2 separate regions of the Homo sapiens genome follow, and region 2 is linked to region 1. The links come from fine-mapping of genetic effects on gene expression. Tissue or cell type: whole blood. Region 1 holds a variant in brackets; the other region holds the start of a gene. All regions are shown on one strand. Distances are between the middles of the regions.

Evidence for each region. PIP is the estimated chance that this variant, and not a neighbour inherited with it, causes the effect.
Region 2: SLC8A1 starts here. The variant in region 1 is fine-mapped to the expression of SLC8A1 in whole blood (INTERVAL, PIP above 0.99). The same link has a PIP of 0.9 or more in neutrophils.

Annotation. Positions count from the first base shown.
Region 1 is chr2:40,390,881-40,399,217 of GRCh38, forward strand. The region is part of intron 2 of SLC8A1 (solute carrier family 8 member A1); the gene reads right to left. It also overlaps the pseudogene LOC124905995. Among named protein-coding and RNA genes, the nearest start is that of SLC8A1, 57 kb to the right of the region's middle. The variant C/T (reference allele first, on the strand shown) is at 3,367.
Region 2 is chr2:40,448,663-40,456,999 of GRCh38, forward strand. SLC8A1 (solute carrier family 8 member A1) reads right to left here and starts at 3,428. Exons shown (of 11, transcript NM_021097.5): 1 at 3,242-3,428.

The DNA.
Region 1 (8,337 bases):
ATTTTGGCATTTCTATTCTCAGGTAGCAAATTGCCTGAAAGGGCAAACAATAAATATGGGAGCTACCGCATGGCTCTTTGTGGATATATTTGGAGGCAGTTTAACATGCTGTGGAGATGTTTCTAGAAAGATTACTGACAAGATCAACCATTTTATGAAAGTTGCTTTTATTACCTTTGGATTTTTTCTAACTTGAAAAATATTGCTCTTAAAGTATGCTTCTCTACTAATCCTTCCTGTTGAGCATTCTATTCTCCTTAAAATATATATATATATAAATATATATGTAGATGCGTGTGTGTATATATATTACACACACACATATGTCTGTGTGTATGTGTGTGTGTACATATGCACACTCACAAATAATTAAGTAATTCCATTCTGGGAGAAAGACTTTGAAGAAAAGCAGTTTATTTGCTACTCAGAAAGGGAAAGTGATGTTCGTGGGACATAAAGGGATTTGAATAAATAGGAATAAGTGTCCTTTTAAAAGAAAGCAGCATATGGAACTAGAAATACTTTCTGGAAGCTCTAATCTCCTATTTGAAGAAAATCCAATTGTTCTGGCTGGTGGCAAACTAGGAGATTACAGCTGAATTTCTCTCCCTCCATTCAATGTGAAGTAATCATAGAGCCATAAGGAATTTGACAGGAACCATAAATACTTCTCCTGTAAATCCCTAAAAATTTATAAGAGCATTATGACTTTCATGCTCTTTCTTTCCTAGAGTCTTTACTTCAAAGTCTTCTGAGACTAGAAGAGCCCCTGGAGCAATCATTCTGCTTCCATATCCACAACTTGGAACTCTTAGTCCCAGACCCTCAAATTATAGAACCTGAGGGAAAATTTAGGGGGCACTGAAACCAAATACCTTCACGTGTCAGATGACAAAATAAATCAGGTAGACAAAAAGTGTTAACCACATCACGCAAAGACCAAAACCCAAAGTTCCACATTTTCAGGCAGAGCCCTCAGCCTCATGTCACTAGGCTTCATTTCTACCAATATCGCCCCACTGACTAAATGTCCTTTGTCACTAGAATTGTTTAGTTCTGCATAAATACAAAGTATCGATGATCAAATTTGACTTATTTCTTCTCATTCAGTCCTTAAGTGGAAACAGCAAAATGCTGGTTGCCTTCTCTTAAAAAAACAAACAAACAAACAAAATAAGAAGGAAGGAGAAGGAAGGAAGGAGAAAAATAAAAAAGAAAGCGAGAATGAACAAAGAGTGAACAAATGAACCAACGGAAGAATGAAAAATAAAAGAAAGAAAAAAGAAAGGAAGAGAGGAAGAAAGAAAAGAAAAAAGAAAGAAAAGAAAAAGAAAAAGAAAAGAGAAAGAAAAAGAAAGAGAAAGGAAGCAAGCAAGCAAGCAAGCAAGCAAGCAAGAAAACCTAAAGATCTTTATCATCACATTTAAATAAGAGTAAATCTCAAGAGGCCATCTTATCTACCCGTTCCCACTAGGCATTACTCAACAGAGAACCAATAGCTAGGAACTTCCTCTATTCCTAAAGATTTTCAAGAAAGGAAGAGAAATATCTTGGGAAGTTTAGGAAACATAAATATTTAGGCTCATTTATTGATGAAAGTGGGCAAAATGAAATCATCCTATGCATCTTAGTAATACTATGTGGTATCACAAGCAGCTTGACATAACAGGCTGGTATCAATTGTCATGGGTAAGTGCTAATTGCTGAAGATCTACCAATTTGCTGTGTGCTTTTACTAAAAATATCTTTGAAAGTTCCACAGCCTTCCAAGATTTTGTATTCCTTGATATAACCTTTAAATTGCCTTCTTCACATTCCCTCTTGTTTGTTAGTAATGAAATGCCAATGATCACAGTACCGGAAAAAAGAAAACGGAGAAGAGGACAATAAAAAATCATGGTTATGATTTGTGGAGCAAAGGAGGGCTTTCAGCATTAATATTTACATTAATGTTTACGTTAAAGTGGGACAGATTACACTACTTTTTACTCACTTCACTTCTTCTTACCCTGCATAGAGTTAAATACTTACTGTTTGTGCCTTGTAAGAACTCTAAAGATTATAGTGTACTAGTAAATCTACTTTATTTTGCTGGCAGGAGTCAGCAGACAAAAGAGGAGCAGGAGAAATGTTGTCAAATCAATAGTGATACTGACTGAATTTTATCAGTGTTTCATCTTTAGCTGAACTATATGAACTCATTCAGATTTTAAAAAATATGTAAACTGTCTAATCTATTTTATAGCTCCGTTTTACAGAGTTATAACATGTCAAGAACAAAGTTACAAAATCCAAAACATACAAGTTAGCATCACCTCTATTTTTTTCTGAAAATTCCGAAAGTACAATGATTAGAACACACTTCAAACCTCACAGCTCTGTATTACTTAGGAAAAAAATCCCAACAGCTATCCAGTTGTGCTTTGAGGTCATTTCTCAAAGCATGTGCATTAAGAAACTTAGCAATCTATGTTTATGGTTGCTTTATCTGGTAGTATAATACAATGAAAATCTCACATATAAAATTTATAATGTGATATTTACAGGTTCAAGGGTGGAATTGCTATGTTCCAAATGATTTTCTGTCATCCCTTAGTTCACTGTTTCTTTAATCCTTTAAAACAATCTGTACAGCCTTTGCTGTAAAAGATTATTACATTCTTATTTCCACTGTGTAGTCATAATTTTGAATGTACTCTCTAATTTACCAACATTGTTTCCAATTCCATATAAACCCATATGAGGGTGCTCCCAGCAAAACTAATTAGGGGGATAACTGTGTAATGTGAAAAAATAAAGAATTGGAATATTATCCTTGTGTCATTTGATTTGCCAAAATTCAGCTTGTAACAATTAGATACTACAGTTGGAAAATTAGTGATTTTATTTATATAACAGGATCTGTCATAAAAGAGCCAAACTGGCAAAATCACTAATAGTCATAACCTAAATCACCCAATCAACCAAAATATTATAAAGTTCAGCTTTTATTTTTATGCCTATTACCCTTTTCATGGCAATGGGTTATTTCAAATACCCCACCACAAGCCCTGAGAACACAGCTGGGTTACTTGAAACCAGTAGCTCTAAACCAGTGGTGACTTGCCCCTTAGGTGACATGTGTCAATGACTGAAGACAGTTTTGCTTGTGGCAGTCTGGGGGATGCTACTGACATTTTGTGTAGGGCTCAGGAATGCTGCTAAACATCCTACAGTAGTGCACAGGACAGCCCCCCACAAAGAAGAATGACCTGGGCTAAAATGTCAACGGAGCTTAAAAAAAGGTTACTAGTCTAAGTGAGCTTAAGTTGAGAAACCCTGCACTAACATTAAGAACTATGTGTCCAACACGGTTGCAACATGTTA[C/T]GCAAACACCTGCATTTTGTGGGGTGGGGGGTGAATACAGCCATTCTAGGGAGAGTAATTTGTTCTAACTTGGGTATTTCTGCCCAATAAGCTAGTAAGATATTTGCTTTTTCTAACGTGGATTCATCAGGGCACTGAAATTTAACTATTTTATTTAAAATATGGTATATACTATTTCTTTGTGGTTTTTCTGTTAGTGTGTGTGTGTGCGTGTGTGTGTGGTGTGTGAGTGAATTTCTGAAACAGAGCGGTAGCAAGCAAATGGCAGATTTGGTTTTATCATCAAGTTTCTGTTAGACATTTCGATAAGATTATACAGAGCATATAGTGGATGCCTACTACATATTTATTGATTTTTGAAAATAAAGTTTGTGAACCTATTTCTGCTATCTTCCTCTTTAGAGAACTGTGATTGCATTTTTCTTCTTTTTTTCTAACATGTATAGAGTGCCTGTTGCCATAGTAATCACTGATTTAGCACAACGTGTTTTTTCCTCCTTCTTTAAAAAAAAATTAGTTCCCATTCCTGCCAAAAAGGAACATATTAATCTACCCATCATGCTAGCTTGGGGAAGTTGAAGGCCACAGAAGTTGTCATTTGTGCAAAGACTCCCAGAAAGTCAGTTGTTAGCATCTTCTGTGCCAAGAACTCTACCCCAATCCCAGAGAGGAAATGAGACACTGAAGTAAAAGATTCTGGAGCTGAGGAGGTAACATCTCTCTTCTTTTCTGCAAAGTCCCACAAAAGATGTGCACAAATGCTCATGTCTGTGTAAACAAATTCACCTACTGATTATAGATTTAACAGACCACTGATGTCCAGAAAACAGGGACTAACTAGACAGTGCTCTTTAAGACAAAAGTTTACCTTAATCTACTTACTTCTGAGGGTAGGGGAACAACAACAAAAGCAACAACTAAAGAAACAAAAACCTTTTGAGAAGTCTAAAAGAAGTAGAGAAATCCTACTGAAGAAACCAACATCAACAGTTTCATTTCTTTATCAAATAAAAAGTCCGGCCTGAGTCTCCTGACTGACTACATTCTTTCTAGTATTAGGTAAATCAGATCTCAAATCTGATCTAGCCCTGCTATTCAGACCACGAATTCCTGTAAACATACCTATCTAGAACTGTGTGCAGGCCCCTCTTATGACAATGGTCTGTGCTCACCTGGATTTTTATCACTGGCACTCTTAGTCAGGACCACCAGATTCTTCCTAATTTCTCAAGTCAAATCCGAAGGCTACCCTGCTTGTGGTGTTCCATAACTCTGTCTGGCCCCTCATGAGAAATGCCACCTACTTGGATGAGAGCATTTAAGTCAGAGCAAGACAGCACAGAGGTTGACTTTAGGTTCCCATCTGACATATTTACTGTTCTAAGAGAGGAAAGGTAGTGGAAGAGAAAGAAAAACTAAAGTGGAACTGCAGGATTTCTGATTTTCAGAAATGTCTGCTTATTATCAGAGTGATAAGAACTCAAAATTAAGACATGGGAAAGGAAAAGATAGGGATATAGAGTCAGAGCTGTTCCTTAACCAAAGGCTTTACAGAATTAGAACACAGCTGACACAGGAAATTCAATGCAAGAAGGTCCTGCTCTAAATAAAAACAGATGAGGAGAAAGTCCATTCATTTTTACTAATAGTATGCATGGAGAATGAACACACGCTGCCTTTTACATAGACCCTTATAACTGTTCATACTGTTCTGTAAAATCAGCATATTTCTTATTATTTTCTTCTGGGAAAAAACACTTGGCTATGCATTTCCTTTTAATTTCATGGAAATGGGAAAGGGGTAAAAGGAAAGAAAGATAATACTTCCTGAAAACTTGAATGTTTTGCTGAAAACACCCTTAAAGGAATGTATCTCTGTCAGGGTAACAAAAACATTTAATAAAATATTTTTAAAGCAGTTGGTCTCTAAGAGAAAATGTGAGGTATATGTAATTAGTAGCAAATATGCATTCAATTGTACTAAGCATGACCATTCTTCCCCTTTAAATCCTCAATCCATGAAGTGTGTTTGTTAATTAGGCAGTAACTTGAAGAGCGCTGCTTTTCCCATAGAAGTCAGGTGCTCAACTACTCAACCATGAATCTCTACGGTTACATGAATCTATGAATGGTCTGCAAACCACTTATACTCCAGGTTTCAATTCTGCTGCCAGTAATAATAGTAATAATACCATCATTCTATTCTAGTAGCACAGTGCAAATTTAAGATAATTAGAAGATGATGATAGAAATTTGAAAGCAATGGATTACAAAACAAGACTGCATCAAAGCATAACACGCAACACAACACTTTTTCAATTATGTACATAACCTGGAAAAACTAGTTGGCAATGAAAAAAATGTGTTGAGAAGTACCTTATTAATTCATTAAATATTTCTGTAATCCTATGTTTCTTTAAAAAGAAAAAAAGATTACTAGTCTAAGTGAGCTTTTATCTTTGTTAAGCAGCATCCTTTTAACCTCCATCATCTCTAATAACTAAAAAAAAAAAAAAAAAAAAAAAAAAAAACAAGAGAAGTTAAAGAAGCAAACCAGCAAGAGAAACTGTAGTTGCTGTATCAATGACAATTATTCCAGTGATAATGACCTGACTTTTTGGGTTGGTCTTCTAGCTAGTCCACAGGGATCCACTGTTCAGGACGGTGTTAGGGGAGGTGGGCTTTGTCATTTTGCACAAGGTTTGACAGGTTTCAGGGTTTAAATCTGCAATTTCCATGGCCCTGGAAAAGTAATGTCTAAATATTGCTTAACTGAAAGTTGCTGATGAGAATATTTCAGTGCTCTGTGCAAAGAGTGGATCCGTGGATCAGTTAATTTTATTGAACAGAAAAAAGGTGAAGTATTGTTGTAGGGATTGAATGAGAACAGATACACAGTGTTTAAAGTAATTCCTGGCACATAGTAGATATCCAAGAAGGTGTCTGACTCCACCCCTTCCTTTTCTCTCTTTCTGAATTGTATTCCACTGTCAGCTGCTAGTGTATACATGTCATGAGCTAATGTGCCCATTGATGGTTTAGCTTATGACTTTCAGGTCAGTTTTCTAAGTTGATAAAAACAAGCATTATAGATAATAAAATTCAGAGGCAGTTCCAACATGGAATAATTGGCTTGTCTCATTCCATAGTCAAAGCTCATCTCAACTAAGTTTTCCATTGCTCACAGTGAGGACTAGGGAAGAGGAATTGCTGCAAATCCATTTTCACAGGTGGGTAATCAACACAAGAAGCACTGTCAACTGATTGTGGGTGTGAAACCATCTACGCACTTGAAAGTTTTCATGTTATCATTACTATGTATCCACATACATTTGCCGAGCCTGACCGTTCCAGATCAGTCTTCTGAATGCTAGCTGCATATCAGAACCACATATGTATAGTTTCATAAATGTGACAATACTCAGGCCCTACCCTGAGACAAGTGGCACAAAGCATTCAGAAGTGGAAAGGATTCTCACCAGGAGAACCACTCTGAGAATCAATAGAAACAGAGATCCAGGTCAAAGAAAAATATTATCTTTCTTCCCTGGGAATCACCAGCATTTGCACAGACTTCTACAACTAGCTACATGACCCAGGGCAATTTCTTAAAGTGGGACACAGTGTGCTCTGAATGCAGACCTGACACTAAATTTATCATGGTTGGGTAGCTGCTGCCTTATGGAGAATGGCCTGTGGGACACTGAACTTACACATTAAACAGCTGAGCCAACGGATGTTTCAACTGCCAGGAAAATAACAGAATGGGGAGACCCTCTGTTCATTTGACACCAGTGCCAGCTTGGAGAAACAGCATTTCTTCTGCAGTTATTGAAAGAAAGTAACCCAGAAGTACCCACAGTCTTTTAGCTCTTAAAATATGGAGCCACTTTTTCTTTTCCAGCTTATTTCCAATGCAAACCTGATTCCAGGCTCAAGAGAAGTACAACGTGCCTTGGTCCCTTCTCCCTAGTCTTGGTCAGCTTCTTCAATTCCTCTTGCTGATCTGGCCTCCAGTTTGGCTGGCTTTTTAGAGGAGTCTCTCAGCACTACCAGCAGAGTCTTTTGACCTATGTTACTAACGCGTGTATCATATCTAGATCCACTCCTCACCATATGTCATGGTACTGTCTTGTTCCTGGTTATTGGTGGTATATTTGTTTTTCTACTGTATGTAGTTAAATTTTAAGTAACTTAAAGAATTACAATAGCAATACAATTTCATTATAAAAAGCAGAATATGTGGATAAACAGAAAGAAGAAAATAATATCCACTATCATACCATTAAGGTGACCCACTAACACAATTTTCAAATAAATTTCCTACGTACATATTTTATTTTTATAAAAATGCAATCATAGAATAGTCAATATGATTTTTAAAAGTCCCTTTTATGAAATAAAATATGTGAACATCTTTTTGTAAATAATTATTCATTTGAAACATTCTTTTAAAATGGCTGTATAGTATTTCCTTGTGATTTTCATAACCATCCCCATATTGATATTTAGCTTGTTTTGAATCTTCTGCTGTTATAAACTATGCTAGGATGACAGTTACAGCTCTTCTTCAACTGCTACTACCCAGTTTGATTGATAAATGACACACTTCCCTTGGCCTAGGAAGAAGCAACAGATTCTGATGTTTGCAAAATTTGTCAGTGTGGCTTATCAAGAAACAGACTCTATCTCTCTATTTATCTATCATCTATATATTTGACAAAACATTTTGAAAAATGACTTTTAAAAATGAAATAAGGAATGTAAAGTCACAAACAGCCCAGGGACCCAAATGAGAAAGCATCTGTCAGAGATTCATCAGTCAGGAGTACCTATTATTTTAACATTTTCATGGTCATATAAGAGGAAAGAACAGGTAAAACAGCCAAAGTATCACCTGATTCCCACTGATTTAGAACAGAACTGCAGAAATGTTGAAAGATTTTTTATTAGATTAAGCTTCCCAGCAAG
Region 2 (8,337 bases), 58 kb after region 1:
GAACGTTTGCCACAAGAGGGAGCAGTAGAATTTGGTCAGATGGGAGACCATTTGGTAGGGGTTATGATGAGGGGTGTATGAGGTATGGGAGGTTATGATGAAGGATTTAACTACAAGTATGGGTGATATTTGGATAATATTTTAGCAAAACACATTTATCCTTGGGGGCAAAAACAAAAAGATAAAGGGACCAGGAAGAGTAGAGAGATAATAGCATGTTGATTCCTAAATTCTTAGCAAATATAAAGTGACAATTTAATGTTTACTTGAAAGCAACATACTACGAAAATATAAAACATGCAACATATGTGCTCTAACAGCCTCTTCTAGAGGCTGCATTTCTTTTTCCAGATCTAATTTATATTTCAGTTTGAATTTTGTTTATTGCCATATTTTTAGGGCAGTCTCCTTCTTATCTATATACTATCCTCCCTGTACCTAAAAGGCATCACAAAGAAAGAACTTGTCTCACTGAATTGCAACATTAAAAAAAAAAAACAAAAAACAAAAAACAACAACAAAAAAAAACACACAGACATTAATGTCCCAAAATGCACTTACTTTGAGACAACCACATCTATGAGCTAAATGAATGCCTTGGCTGGCTTTTTAAAGGGGAATTGCAACTTCCTTGGATCTGCACAGCTTTTCTCATCATTTATTTTGTCAAAGAAATAGATTGAATACTAAGAGGAATCATGTGTTTATTTTGCAAGTAAATAAAAGTCTATATTTGCCTGGCAAAAGCATGTTAAACATAGCTTTTTAACAGATGCTGAAGTTCTCTTGGAATATATTTTATTTTTTCAAAACACAGAAAGCTTAACAGAGCAATTAACATAATTCCTGCAAATAGTCCTATAGATGTTACTGACTATACCTCACTTTCCATTTGTAATTTTATTGGGAGTCAAAGCACTGTTACTCCCATGCTCTTTTCTTCCCCTGGTCAACAAAAGGGCTATGTGCTTAATCTGAAACGTTACAGTAGGAACCACTATATAATAATATTAAAGTAAAGACATAGGTAGATAGATACATAGAAAATAAGCCTTCATATTTTAGTTCATTACTCTCCTCCTTCAGCCCTGTTAAGCTTTCAAGACAGTAAAGTCTGATTATCATGACACTCTTACATCCTTTGTAGCCCTATACAGCTCAACAATAAATAATGGTTTATCTCTGTTCAGTCCTTTTTGTTGCTGTTGTTTTTCTAGGAATTAATCATTTTTTTAAAAAAAGACAACAACCATTTTAAGGGGACAAAATCAGGGCTTCTTTTATAGCAGGTGTGAGAAATCTTAGCTAAAGAGCCGTGAGATCCAAATGGAATTCTTCAAGCAGGCAGAATTTGTAAAACGAAAACCATTTAAGAGCACACATCTTGCCTCTTGATGAAATAAGTTGGTCCTCCCCCACCTTCTCACTCACAAGGCCCCAAAGATGGAGCTAGTTTTCCCTTCCTTCCTCCTGCTTTCACACCCGCCTAACCTCCCAATTAAGCAAGTTTAGCAAACCCAGGGAGCTCAATCCAAGTAACACAGGATTTGAAAGAGGAACCTAAAACCAATCATCCCTCTTCCGGCTTTGTCTTCTTATTTGAAATGAATGAAACATCTAGATTCATTTTCCTTTTTTTTTCTGACTCGCTGCAGGAGTAGCTTTGAGAGAGAAAGAGAAAGCATGTGAGTGTGTGTGTGTGTGTGTGCACGCGCGCGCGCTGGTGGGGGCATGGGAAAGAGAGGTATACTTTCAGAATTCTCTCCTGGTGGCTCCCTCTTTCCCTTGGGAAATCTTCGCACAAGTCTCAGATTGTGCATGTTCAACTGCTCATATCTGGAGATACTCCAGCAATGCCTTTAACCAGATCTGATCAGAAATCTCCACCTACTCAGCTAGAGGCTCCTCCATGATCAGGACGCTTGTACTGTCTTCACCACATCTGTCATTTTTTAAAAAGCTTCTTCCACTACACCTCCCACTGATATCCTTTTTTTCTCTTTTTAGTCTTTACACCTCCAGCAGGACAAAGTTTGTATTGTTATATTCACAACCACTAGTAGCTGACTAGCAGGAGAGAGAGAGAGCGGCTTCAGGAGAGCCAGGTTCGGGGGCTTCAAAAGGATACCTAGCGCAAAGCATGACTTTCCAATGACTGCGTACAACATGCACATTGCTCTCTTCTAAAAATGCTTTGTTAAATTTCATCACCCCTGTTCTCAACTCAACCACTACCACTTTGGAGAGGGAAATACAAATTGCCAGCCCAAGCCATTCATCAAACAGCAACAGAATCCACGGGGTGGTGGGGGGGATAGAGAAGAGGCGGGGGTGATGCAGGGGGTGGATTTAAAGAATCAAGGATGCACACGTACTGTATTTTCAAGAGCATCGCCTGGGCGGATTTGGTTTCTTTGGCCGGCTGTCCAGCTATAAGACCGCCCTCTTCTTCATTAAGGAGGAGCCAAAAAGGATATCTTCACATCTCAGAACACAGACCATTTCCCCCAAGAGCCAGCAAAGCTCCAGAGGCAGAGAATGCAGCTGCAAAGTTCCCTTCCAATCTCTTGGGGAAAGATGCCTGTGTGTGCAGAATCCCCAAAGCACACCACGGCACAGTGCCCAGAGACGTGGACCCCGCAGCCCACTCCCTGCTACCCCCTACATTTCTTCCTCGTCTGTCTCTGCCCCGCCACACCTCCCTCCTCTCCGCAGTCCGTGGTGAATGAGCACCCAACGCCCGCTGGAAAACAGGGGGCTCGGAAATGTGGCCTTGGGGAAAGACCCCAGGGATTACCGGAAGGAGGGATGTCCGCGGAGAAGAGTCCAGTGGGTGGGGACGCCTGGATCCCCAGCAGCTCTGCATTCGGGGTGGACTTAGCTCTTCGCGCCCTGAATCCTCAGAGCCCAGCGCGGTGCAGGGTGCAGCATCTCTCCTTAGCAGCCCTTTCTTCCTCCGGCAGCCTGCACTGGCAGGCAGGCAGGCACCCTCACGCCCAGACGCACCAGCCCGAGCAATTTCACTCTGGGAAGCGCGGACACCCAGAAAAATGTGCAGGCGCGCACACACCACATCACACACACACACACACACACACACACACACACACACACACACACACAAATTTAGAAGCCGCTCGTTTGCCAAAGCAGAGGGAAGTGTAGCCTTATGAGCAGCAAATGGAAAATAGTTCTTGGTCTCTGACTAAATGCCTTCTGCCTGTCCATCATAAGATCCTACCTGGTTTGGGGAGTGTGAATGGATTCTTCCTCCGTTCCTCCACGCTAGTAGAAAATACGGCGCACTCCCTCCTTTTAAACAGCTCCCGATCAGGAAGAGGTCGCTCCCATCTTCTGTGGGAAGCACAAAGCAGGCGGCGGCGGCGGGCTGACTACCGTGCAGCGCCGGCGCGAGCGGGAGCCGCGGCAGCGGGCAGCGGTGCGCGCGGGCGGGAGGCAGGCGCGGAGGCCGGGAGGCTGGGAGGGCCGGGGCCCGGGCGCGCGCGCGCTCCCCCTCCCTCCCGCGCACACTCGCCCGCCCGCCGCCCGCAGCCTCGCACTCGCTCACACGCGCGCTCGGCCCCGCGGCTGCCGGGCGCCCCGGGGCCCCCTGCGCGCCCCTTGGGCTCCCCAGGCGATCGCGTCGGGGCAAAGCCGGCGCGTTTCTGGAGCACCGAGCGGGTGGGGAGCCCTTCCAGCCTCCCAGCCTCTGCCGGCGAGCAGCTTTTTCGATTTCCTGCCGGCTCTCGGCCCCGCAGTGCGTTGTGGCCGCGCGCTAGCGCTGTCTCTCGCACCCAGCCCATCGATGACACGCGCACACAGGCGCTGCAACTTTTCTTTTGAACCCTCTTCTTCTCTTCCGCAGACAGAACCCTGACCCCCAATTCGCCTACCCGTTTCTCACCTCTGACTTTGTTAATCCAACTATCTTTCTTCCCTCACTTCCTGCCCTTCTGCTAAAGGAAGCTTTCTTTTAGCAAAAGGATCTGGGCATATATCAATGATTTTTTTTTTAATCCTCACCCTGTGTTTTTCTACGTATCAGATATGCACAACTATACGTTGGCTACTAGATGCTGACACAAGCAAACAGAGATATTCGGGGGAGGGTGTCCCCCGGCCAAGAACTGGGACAGAGTCTCTGTGTTGGTATTTCCCTCAAAGATGCGTTTCACCTGGGAATAAAGACCCAGAGTCTGTTTCGTGTGAAAGGCGTGCTGGTTTTAAACTACAGTGAGGAGTAAAAGCCGAGCATTAAGGTTGAGTGGGAAAAAACCTAATGCAGCAATCGACGAACCATTCTTTGCCCTTTCCAAGAGAAGCATTATCATTGCCAATAAATCACTTTCCTCATAATTAATAAAGGAACACTGCACCAGGCCTTTCCTCTCTTGACAGCTCATTCATTCTTACAAACCCTTAATGACTTCACGTGGTGAAAGGCTAGACCTACTGTGGAGTTCACTAGCTTCCAAACCTGGCTGCGCATCACACACACCTGGGAATGTAGTCAGATGCTGTAGAATCTGAGGCCGAATCTGATGCAGACTCTCCCGTTGTAGGTCTCAAATGGGGCTCCAAATTAGTATTTTTAAAACACCAGTTGCTATCGGCCACTGGTGTCGTTTGCCAAGGTGTGTGGGGGGGTCAGGAGCAGCTACTTGGGGAAGGTGGGAGAAGGAGGGACCTGCAGAGCACAAGGCAGAAAGTTAGTTTTTTTTCGTGGAGACGTCCCCCCATACTTACAGTGCAACCAGGGCAGTCACCACGACTGATAGATTCTGACTCCAGGAACCTCAGTTTGCCTCCGCAACAAAGAGGGGGCGGAATGGAAGAAATAGCCTCTTCTGCCCCTGTGCCAGTGGCTCTCAACCCTCCTTGCACCTCAGAATCTCCTGGGCCGTTTTTAAAAATCCCAGTGCTTAGGCCACACCCCCAAACTGATTAACTTTGACTCTCTGCAGGTGGGCCCCAGACAGCCTTAATTTGTTTTTAAGATGCCTGGTTGATTCCTATGTGCAATGAAGGTTGAGAACCACTGCTCTAGGCCAATACTCCTCAAACATGAATGTGAGTATGAATCACATGGGGATTGCAGATTCTTTTTCAATAGACCTGGAGCAGGCCTGGGGTAGGCAAGTGTTGAAGTGATGCTGAGGCCGTCTGAATGAGGACCTCACTTTAATTAGTCGGGTCTGTTGCCAGCAGTCTTGGATACTGGCTTTGTAGAGGACACTCTAAGCTGCTTCACGTCTTATAAAATTTGCAGGAATCGTTCTTGCCTAAGAACATTTTTCTTTCCTTGCTATAAGTTAAATTTTCTTGGAAGCTACTTTCCACACCAACTTGGTTAGACTACACTTACTAGTGGATATAAACAGAATGACCTGTGGGGAGAGACAGAAGGTCACTGTCTCTTTTAGAATATGTCCTCTACCAAAAATTACTTAGAGTCCCTGAATTTAAGGCAGTGTGAGTAGCAGATATTTGGCTCACACTCAATGAAAGGGGCTTGGAGAGAAAAGTGGCTGCCTTCTAAATAACACTAAGGAAAGCTTATAACTAAAGACTCCACTCAATAGGAAATAGAACACAGCCAAATGAAGGAACCAAGAGAAAGCTAAATGAAAATGTGAGTGGGCCATATTTCACTGGAATAGATTTTGTGGAAAGAGTGTAGCCTCTTATTGCTATGACGGGCCGCTTAGTGAAAGCTGAGATTTTCTTGAAATTTTAGGCATGTTTGTGACATGGAGTGACAAGAACCCTGTTCTTTAAATGTTTATACTCCAGTGATGCCCAAAGTCTGTCTTAAGACTTTTTTTTTTTTTTTTTTTGCTTTGACCATTGAAACTGAAAGGCTACATCTTGGCCACTTGATTCTTCCTCTTTTCCAATCGAAACTGCTTTTAGACTGATTTGGATTCTTGGGAAAAAAACAATATTAAATGGTCTTCTGTTTATCTAGAACTATTGGAGAGGCAGCCTAGTGCCTAGTGATTTGGCATCCTTTTTGGTTCAGTCAGTTTCTGAGCCCCTAATTTTCTTTGCCTTTCATTTCTCTTTAAAGGCATTTTTATAATGGTTCCAGGGCCCCAAGGCAAATCAAACCTTTTGCTCCCTCCTAAATGTCATACATGAGTGAGTTTTTATTGCGAGAATTATCAAAGGCTGCATCACAGGCACAAGGCTGAGGAAGACTATGGCTCTAAGAAAGGAAAAAGTGAGGCTGCTGCAGTCTGTGGCTTTGGAAAGAAGACATGTTGAATGGAGGAAGGTGGTAATTTACATTCTAATAGCAGTAATGTTTCTTAATTGCAGTCTTCCATATTGATTGCCATTCTTTCCTCTGGACTTGGAATTAAGAGTCACCGGGTCTCCACTGTTATCTAACCAAAGCAATACGACACAACCATTCAGGGGACTCCACAGGGATATCACTAAGATTTGATATATTCGAAAGATGTTCTGATGTTCACAAACTATTTCCTAGGAAACCTTCAGGGGATCTGTTAGCAAACTCATTTTCAGACCAAGTGTAAATATTGTGAATTAGGCCCTACTTTTTATCTAGTCTATAGAAAATTTAGACATGTGATCAGGTTACCAAGATTTTTAAAAATATTTAATACTTTACTAAAGCACTCAATATGTTTTCATCATAGGGAAAACAAGCACAATACTCTGTTTAAATTCCTTTCATTTTTACTTTGAATTACATAAATCAGAGGTACCTCTATTGTCTCTTCCATTGCTTCGGGCTTCTGAAATATGTTAATACAGTCTTAGTCGTCCCTCACCTCATTTCTTACTCTGCCAGCCTTCACTAATCACCTATCTGTTCAGTCACAGGCTCAGTTTCATAGTGATTTCTACATAAGAAAATGTTATTACATAATAGCCCCTAGCCTGGCCAGTGAGTGGAGCTTAGAATTAGCCATTTTTCCATACCTAAGAATCTCAGGTGAACCATTGGGTTCCCAGTTTTGTTCTTTAGGTTTTCTTTGCTGATGAGTAGATCCAGGGTTCTTTGCTTTGGGGATGACTTTGAGAATTCTTTGTTGACTTCTAAGTGCTGTTGTTCCTCTTCCCTGGAGACTTGTTCCTGCAGTTAAACTTTTACTTCTCTGTTTTGTTTTGACCAACTGAACACCACTCTTGTACCTCACCCAGTTGTAAACCCTGCTACTGCACAACAGTCCACAGACTGGGGCAGCCTTCCTGGCAGACTCACAGTCACAACTCTCCTCCTCTCTGCATTACCGTGGGGTCAACCACTTCCTCTGAGTCGCCAATGAATTTGTCACAGTCTTTGGACATCAGGGACCTGCAATTCTACATTTGAGCAACTGATATTAAAGAATTGGGTTTGGGCTGGGCGCGGTGGCTCACGCCTGTAATCCCAGCACTTTGGGAGGTTGAGGCGGGTGGATCACGAGGTCAGGAGATCGAGACCATCCTGGCTAACATGGTGAAATCCCGTCTCTACTAAAAATACAAAAAATTAGCCGGGCGTGGTGGCGGGCACCTGTAGTCCCAGCTACTTGGGAGGCTGAGGCAGGAGAATGGCGTGAACCCAGGAGGCGGAGCTTGCAGTGAGCAGAGATCACACCACTGCACTCCAGCCTGGGTGGACAGAGCGAGACTCCGTCTCAAAAAAAAAAAAAAAAAAAAAAAAGAATTGGGTTTGTACAAAATTCTGAGACTTCTGTTTTTCATTTCTGCCCCTTATTAAATTAAGGAAATATCTAGTCTCTGTCCTGCAACTTTATCAATGGTAACTCAATGGCAGAATCATTATCTAGAGCTATTAATTTAGAGGTCAGAAAATAATAGCAGATTGGTTAAGAGCCAAGGCTTTAGAGTCAGAATATCTGTGTTAGATTTTTCAGATCCAGCTGTGTGACCTTGGGGAAGCTTTTTAACCTCTTAAATCTCAATATCTTTGTTTGGAAAACATGGATCATAAACTCTCCCTCAAGGTGCTGTGGGAAGGATAAAATGTATATAGGATGCTTGGCATAGTTCCTGATCATAGTAATTGCTCAGCAAACGATATTGCTGTTATTATTACTGGTAAAGTTTCATAAACATGATGTCAATGTAAATTTTAAAATTTCTATATAATTAGATTCTACATAATCAGGTCATCCAATTATTGATATTGATTATGCTGTTGTTTTTGTTATACAGAGTTCTATGCAATGAATAATCCAGAAAAATATACATTTCTACATCAAGAGAGTACTTTTCCTCTCTGTAATGAAAAAAGCTGCTTGTGAACTTTCTGATTTTGTAAGTACATAGTGTGGTTAGTGATTGATTAAAAGGGGCAAT